2 linked regions of the Homo sapiens genome follow. Changing the gene in region 2 together with the main gene of any one other region gives a genetic interaction. Each region holds a gene or a part of one and is shown on either strand. Other genes may lie near its edges. The genes, in order: TBP and RNF4.

Region 1 (3,818 bases), on a different chromosome or scaffold from region 2:
ATGCTTTATTGCTAAAAATGCTAACAATCATGTGAGCCTGCAGCAAATCATAATCTTTTTGCTGACAGAGGATCTTGCCTCGATGTTGATGGCTGCTGACTGATCAGGGTGGTAGCTGTGGCAATTTCTTAAAATAAGACTGACGAAGTTTGCCACACTGACTGACTCTTCCTTTCACTGAAGATGTCTCTGTAGCATATGATACTATTTGACAGCATTTTACCCACACTAGAACTTATTTCAAAATTGGAGTCAATCCTCTCAAACCCTGCTGCTGCTTTATCAACTAAGTTTATGTAATATTCTAAAGTCATCAGTTCTTCACCAGGAGTCAATTCTATCTCAAGAAACCACTTTCTTTGCTTACTCACAAGAAGCAACTCCTCATCTGTTCAGGTTTTATCAAAAAATTGCAGCAATTCAGTCACATCTTCAGGTTCACTTCTAATTCTAGTTCACTTGCTATTTCCACTACACCTGCAGTAACTTCCAGCACTGAAGTCTAGAACCTCTCAAAGTCATCCACGAGGGTTGGAATCAACCTCTTCCAAACTCTTATTCATGTTGATATTTCACCCTCCTCCCATGAATCATGAACATTCTTAATGGCATCTAGAATGGTGAATCTTTTTCAGAAGGTTTTCAATTCACTTTGCCCAGATTCATCAGAGGAATCACTATCTATGGCAGCTACAGCATATGTCCCTCCCTGCTTCCTTTCTTTGAGACAGGGTCTCCATTGTAGCCTTTAACTTCTGGACTCAAGTGACCCTCCCGCCTCAGCCTCCCAAGTAGCTGGGACTACAGGCACATGCCACCATGACCAGCTAATTAAAAAAAAATTTTTTTTTGTAGCAACAGGGACTTGTTTTGTTACCCAGGTTGGTCTTGAGCTCCTAGCTTTGAGTGATCCTTCCACCTTGGCCTCCCAAAGTACTGAGATTACAAGCATGAGCCACCATGCCCTGCTGTATTTCTTAAATAGTAAGAATTGAAAGTTGAAATTACTCCTTGATCCATGGGCTGAAGAATGGATATATTATTTAAGCAGGCATGAAAACAATATTAATCTCCTTGTTCTTCTCCATCAGAGCTTGTGGACAACTAGTTACACTGTCAGTGAGTAATATTTTGAAATTAAACTTTTTTTCTGAGCAGATCTCAAAGAGCTTAAAATATCCAGTAAATCATGCTGTAAACAGACGTGCTCTCATCAGGTTTTGTTGTTCTGTTTACTGAGGACAGGCAGAGTAGATTTAGCGTAATTCTTAAGGCTCTATGGTTTTAGAGCAGAACATGAGCATTGGCTTCAATTTAAACTCACCAGCTCTATTAGCCCCTAACTAGTCAGCCAGTCCTCTGAAGCTTTGAGGCTAGGCACTGATTTCTCCTCTCTAGCTATAAAAGTCCTAGATAGCATCTTCTTCCAGTAGAAGGCTGTTTCATCTACATTAAAAATCTATTATTTAGTATAGTCACCTTCATCAATTATCTCAGCTAGATCTTCCAGATAACTTGCTGCTTCATGTTGCATTTTTATGTTGTGGAGAAGGCCTCTCTCCTTAAAGCTCTGAATAAACCTCTGCTAGTTTCAAAACTTTCTTCTACAGCTTCCTCTCCGCTCTCAGCCTTTACAGAATTGAAGAGAGTTAAGGCCTTGCTCTGTATTACACTTTGGCTTAAGGGGATGTGTGGGTGGTATGATCTTCTATCCAGACCATTCAAACTTTCTCCATATAAGCAATAAGGCTGTTTTGCTTTCTTATCACTTGTGGGTTTACTGGAGTAGCACTTCTAATTTCCTTTAAGAACTTTTCCCTTGCATTCACAACTTGGCTAACTATTTGGTGCAAGAGGCCTAGCTTTTAGCCTGTCTCAGCTTTCAACATGCCTTCTTCACTAAGTATAATCATTTATAGCTTTTGGTTTCAAATGAGAGATGTGCAGCTCTTCCCTTCATCTGAACACTTAATTAAAAGTCACTGTAAGGTTATTAATTAGCCTAATTTCCATATTGTTGTGTCTCAAGGAATAGGGAAGACCAAGCAGAGGGAGAGAGATGGGGGAATGGTTGGTCACGCTGCAGACATTTATCAATTAAGTTCCTGTATTATACAGGTGCAGTTTATGGCATTCAATAATAATTACAATAGTAACATCAAAGATCACTGATCACAATAACAGATAATAATGAAAAGGTTTGACTAGGCACAGTGGCTCATGCCTGTAATCCCAACACTTTGGGAGGCCAAGGCGGATGGATCACTTGCAGCCAGTAGTTTGACACCAGCATGGTGAAACTCCGTCTCCACTAAAAATACAAAATTTAGCTGGGTGTGGTGGCGCATGCCTGTAATCCCAGCTACTTGGGAGGCTGAGGCAGGAGAATCGCTTGAACACGGGAGATGGAGTTTGCAGTGAGCCAAGACTGCACCACTGCACTCCAGCCTGGGCAACAGAGTGACTGAAAAAAAAAATTAAAAAAAAAATACAAAAAAAAAGAAAAAAAAAAGTTTGATAACAATAACGGATAATAATGAAAAAGTTTGAAATCCTGCAAAAATTACCAAAATCTAACCCCAAGACATGAAGTGAGTACACACTTTTGGAAAAATAATGCCAACAGACTTGCTGGGTACAGGTTTACCACAACCTTCAATTTGTCAAACATGCAGTAAAGTGAAGTGCAGTAAAGTGAGGTGGGCCTGTGTATGAGTGGCTGACAAGCACTTGCCAAGGTGCTCAGAAACATTAGTAATCAGGCAAATAAAAATCAAAACCACAATAAGATACTACTAAGCAATCACTAGAGTGAAAGTAAAAAGACTGACAGCAGAAAGTGTTGGTGAGGATGTGGAGCAACTTAAATCTCTTATGCTGCAAAACAATACAGCCACTTCAAAAAACAGTTTGGCAGTTTCTTATAAAGTTATACATATACCAATATAGGACCTAGCAATCCTACTCCTAAGTATTTACCCATGAGAAGTAAAAACAGTGCATTCAAAGTCTACACAAATGTTTACAGTGCTTTTATTCGCAATAGCTCCAAACTGGAAAGACCCCAAATGTGAGCAACTGGAGAATGGATGAACTGTGGAACATCCAAACAATGGAGTGATACTTAGCTATACAATGGATTAACTACTGATATACAAACAGTACACTGGGCTAAGAAGTCAGACATACACAAAAAAGCATACACTCTGATTCCATCTATATGAAATTCTAGAATAGACAAAACTAATCTTCAGCATTGAAAAGCAGATGCAGTAGTTACCTGGGGCCAGCAGAGTGACTATAAAGGGGAAGAAGGGACTTTTTAAGGTAACTGAAATGTTCTGTAATTTATACATTATATATAATTATCAAAACAGACACTTAAAATGAGTTTTTTTGTATGTATATTTCAACAAAAGTTATTGATTTTTTTTTTTTTTTTTTTTTTTTTGAGACAGAGTCTCGCTCTGTCTCCCAGGCTGGAGTGCAGTGGCACGACCTCTGCTCACTGCAACCTCCACCTCCCGGGTTCAAGCAATTCTCCTTGCCTCAGCCTCCCGAGTAGCTGGGATTACAGGCACCCGCCACAACACCTGGCTAATTTTTGTATATTTTGTAGAGATGAGGTTTCACCACGTTGGCCAGGCTGGTCTCGAACTCCTGACCTCAGGTGATCCGCCCACCTTGGCCTCCCAAAGTGCTGGGATTACAGGCGTGAGCCACTGCACCCAGGCTGAAAAATTTTTAAAGTAGATGGGTGGTTGAGAGCTTGAAATGTAAAAGGGGAAAAATAAAACTAGAAAATAATTTGGTGAGGG
Region 2 (3,818 bases):
TTCGAGCTCTGCTTACTAATTGTGTGACCTTGGGCAAGTGACCCTGATCTCCCAGTGCCTCAGGAAGAGTAAAATGGGGCTAACTACAACAACTATCTTATAGAGTGGTTCTGTAAGAGAGTAAGAAGTAGGGAATCACTCAACCATAGATATTAAATCATGAGTCTGGAGTCTGAGACCAGCCTGGACAAAAGGGCAAGACCCAGTCTACAAAACTTTGTTAAAAATTAGCCAGGTGTGGGCCAGGCGAGGTGGCTCACGCCTGTAATCCCAGCACTTTGGGAGGCTGAGGCGGGTGGATCTTGAGGTCAGGAGATCGAGACCATCCTGGCAAACACGGTGAAACCCTATCTCTACTAAAAATACAAAAAATTAGCTGGGCATGGTGGCACGTGCCTGTAGTCCCAGCTACCCGGGAGGCTGAGGCAGGAGAATGGCGTGAACCTGGGAGGCGGAGCTTGCAATGAGCCGAGATCGCGCCACTGCACACCAGCCTGGGCGGCAGAGTGAGACTACATCTCAAAAACAAACAAACAAACAAACAAAAAGCCAGGTGCGGTGGCGTGCGCCTGTAGCCCCAGCTACTTGGGAGGCTGAGGTGAGAGGATCTCTTGAACCCAGAAGTTGGAAGCTGCAGTGAGTTACGATCGCACCAATGCACTCCAACTGGGGCAACAGGGAGATATTCTCTTAAAAAATAAATAAAAAATGCTAATGATCATTTGAGTCTTCACAAAGTTGTAATATTTTTGCTGGTGAAGGGTCTTGCCCTGATGATGGCTGCTCATGGATCAGGGCAGTGGCTAATGAAGGTTGGGGCAGCTGTGACAGTTTTTCTTTTTCTTTTTTTGAGATGGAGTTTCACTCTTGTTGCCCAGGCTGGAGTACAACGGCGCAATCTTGGCTCACCGCAACCTCTGCCTCCCTGGTTCAAGCAATTCTCCTGTCTCAGCTTCCCGAGTAGCTGGGATTACAGGCATGCCCCACCACGCCCAGCTAATTTTTTTGTATTTTTAGTCGAGACGGGGTTTCTCCATGTTGGCCAGGCTGGTCTGGAAGTCCCAACCTGAGGTGATCCGCCTGCCTCGGCCTCCTAAAGTGCTGGGATTACAGGCGTGAGCCACCGCACTGGGCCAACTGTGACAATTTCTTAAAATGAAGTTTGCTGCATCAGTTGTCTCTTCCTTTCATGAAAGATTTCTCTGTAGCGTGCAATGCTGTGTGACAGCATTTTACCCACAGTGGAACTTCTTTCAAAATTGGAGTCAATCCTTTCAAACCCTGCCACTGTTTTATTAACTAAGTTTATAAAATATTCTAAATCCTTTGTTATAATCTCAACAATGTTCACTGCACCTTCAGCAGTAAATTCCACCTCAAGAAACCACTTTCTTTGCCTGTCCACAGGAAGCAACTCTCCATGTGTTCAAGTTTTATTTAAAAATTGCAGCAATTCAGTCACATCTTCAGGTTCTACTTTTTTTTTTTTTTTTTTTGAGACAGAGTCTCGTTCTGTCAACCAGGCTGGATGGAGTGCAATGGCGTGATTTCGGCTCGCTGCAACCTCTGCCTCCTGGGTTCAAGCGATTCTCCTGCCTCAGCCTCCTGAGTAGCTGCGATTACAGGTGCGTGCCACCACACCTGGCTAATTTTTTTGTGTGTTTTTAGTAGAGACGGTGTTTCACCGTGTTAGCCAGGATGGTTTCAATCTCCTGACCTCGTGATCCGCCTGCCTTGGCCTCCCAAAGTGCTGGGATTACAGGTGTGAGCCACCTTGCCTGGCCCTTTTATTTTTTTGAGACAAAGTCTCACTCTATTGTCCACGCTTGAGTGCAGTGGCCCGATCTTGGCTCACTGCAACCTCTGCTTCCTGGGTTCAAGCAATTCTCCTGCCTCAGCCTCTGGAGTGGCCGGGATTACTATGCAGTAACAATCCCACTACCACGCTCAGCTAATTTTTGTATTTTTAGTAGAGACAAGGTTTTATCATGTTGGCCAGGCTGGTCTCCAACTCCTGACCTCAGGTGATCCATCAGGCCCAGCCTTCAGGCTCTACTTTTTTTTTTCTAGACAGAGTCTCGCTCTGTCGCCCAGGCTGGAGTGCAGTAGTGTGATCTCGGCTCACCACAACCTCTGCCCCTCCAGGTTTAAGCAATTCTCTGCCTCAGCTTCCAGAGTAGCTAGGATTACAGGCGTGCGCCACCACGCCCTGCTAATTTTTTGTATTTTTAGTAGAGACGGGGTTTCACCATCTGGCCAGGCTGGTTGTGAACTCCTGACCTCGTAATCCACCCGCCTAGGCCTCCCAAAGTGCTGAGATTACAGGCGTGAGCCACCAGGCCCGGCCAGGCTCTACTTCTAATTCTAGTTCTCTTGCTATTTCCACCACATCTACAGTTACTTTTTCCATTGAAGTCTAGAACCCCTCAAAGTCACCCATGAGGGTCAGAATCAACTTTTTCCAAGTTCTTGTTGTGTTAATTGATTTTTTTTTTTAAGACGGAATCTCACTGTTGCCCAGGCTGTAGTGCAGAGGCACAATCTCGGCTCACTGCAGCCTCCACCTCCTGGGCCCAAGCGATTAACCTACCTCAGCTCCTCAAGTAGCTGGGACTACAGGAGCGTGCCACCATGCCTGGCTAATTTTTGTATTTTGTTGGTAGAGACGGGGTTTCACCATGTTGGGCAGGCTGGTCTCAAACTCCTGACCTCAGGTGATCTGCCTGCCCCAGCCTCCCAAAGTGCTGGGATTACAGGCGTGAGCCACCGTGAACTGCTGATGTTGATATTTTGACCTCCTCCCATGAATCACAAATATTCTTTTTTTTTTTCTTTTTTGAGATGGAGTCTCGCTCTGTTGCCCAGGCTGGAGTGCAGTGGTGCTATCTTGGCTCACTGCAAGCTCCTCTTCCCGGGTTCACACCATTCTCCTGCCTCAGCCTCCCGAGTAGCTGGGACTACAGGTGCCCGCTGCCAAGACCGGCTAATTTTTTGTATTTTTAGTAGAGATGGGGTTTCACCATGTTAGCCAGGATGGTCTCGATCTCCTGACCTTGTGATCCGCCCACTTCGCCTCCCAAAGTGCTGGGATTACACGGGTGAGCCACCGTGCCTGGAGACAAATATTCTTAATGGTATCTAGAATAGTATATCCTTTCAGGAGGTTTTTAATTTACATTGTTGATACCCATCAGAAGAATCACAATCTATGTAGCTGTAGCCTTACAAAATGCATTTCTTTCTTTCCCCCTGCCGCCCTTTTTTTTTTTTTTTTTTAAGAGACTGGCAGTGGAGGGGGTGGTCTCACTATGCTGCCCCGGCTGGTCTCTAACTCCTGAGCTCAAGCGATCCACCAGCTTTGGCCTCCCGAAGTGCTGCGAGTACAGGCATGAGCCACTGTGCTCAGCCTCAAGATGCATTTCTTAAGTAAGATTTGAGAGTTGAAATTACTCCTTGATCCATGGGCTGCAGAACAGATGTTAACATTAATCTTACTCATCTCCATGAGACCTCTTTGGTGACTAAGCACATTCTCAATGAGCAGTAATATTTTGAAAGAAATCTTTTTTTCTGAGCTGTAGATCTCAATAGTGGGCTTAAAATATTCAGTAAAACATACTGTAAACAGATATGCTACTATACAGGCTTTCCTGTTTCAATGATCAGCACACAGTAGATTTTTGCATACTTCTTAAGGGCCCTAGGATTTTCAGAATGGTAAATGAGCACTAGTTACAACTTAAGTCACTGGCCACACTAGCCCCTAACAAGAGAATCAGACTGTCCTTTGAAGCCAGGCATTGACCTTTCTCTAGCTA

The links.
Region 1: of RNF4 (region 2) and TBP, changing one enhances a phenotype caused by changing the other (phenotypic enhancement), as found in Homo sapiens cells (one study listed by BioGRID).

The regions. Positions count from the first base shown.
Region 1 is NC_000006.12:170,557,369-170,561,186, reverse strand, and holds part of TBP (TATA-box-binding protein), read right to left. Parts: intron 1-3,818. UniProt on the Homo sapiens protein: The TFIID basal transcription factor complex plays a major role in the initiation of RNA polymerase II (Pol II)-dependent transcription.
Region 2 is NC_000004.12:2,472,060-2,475,877, reverse strand, and holds part of RNF4 (E3 ubiquitin-protein ligase RNF4), read right to left. Parts: intron 1-3,818. UniProt on the Homo sapiens protein: E3 ubiquitin-protein ligase which binds polysumoylated chains covalently attached to proteins and mediates 'Lys-6'-, 'Lys-11'-, 'Lys-48'- and 'Lys-63'-linked polyubiquitination of those substrates and their subsequent targeting to the proteasome for degradation.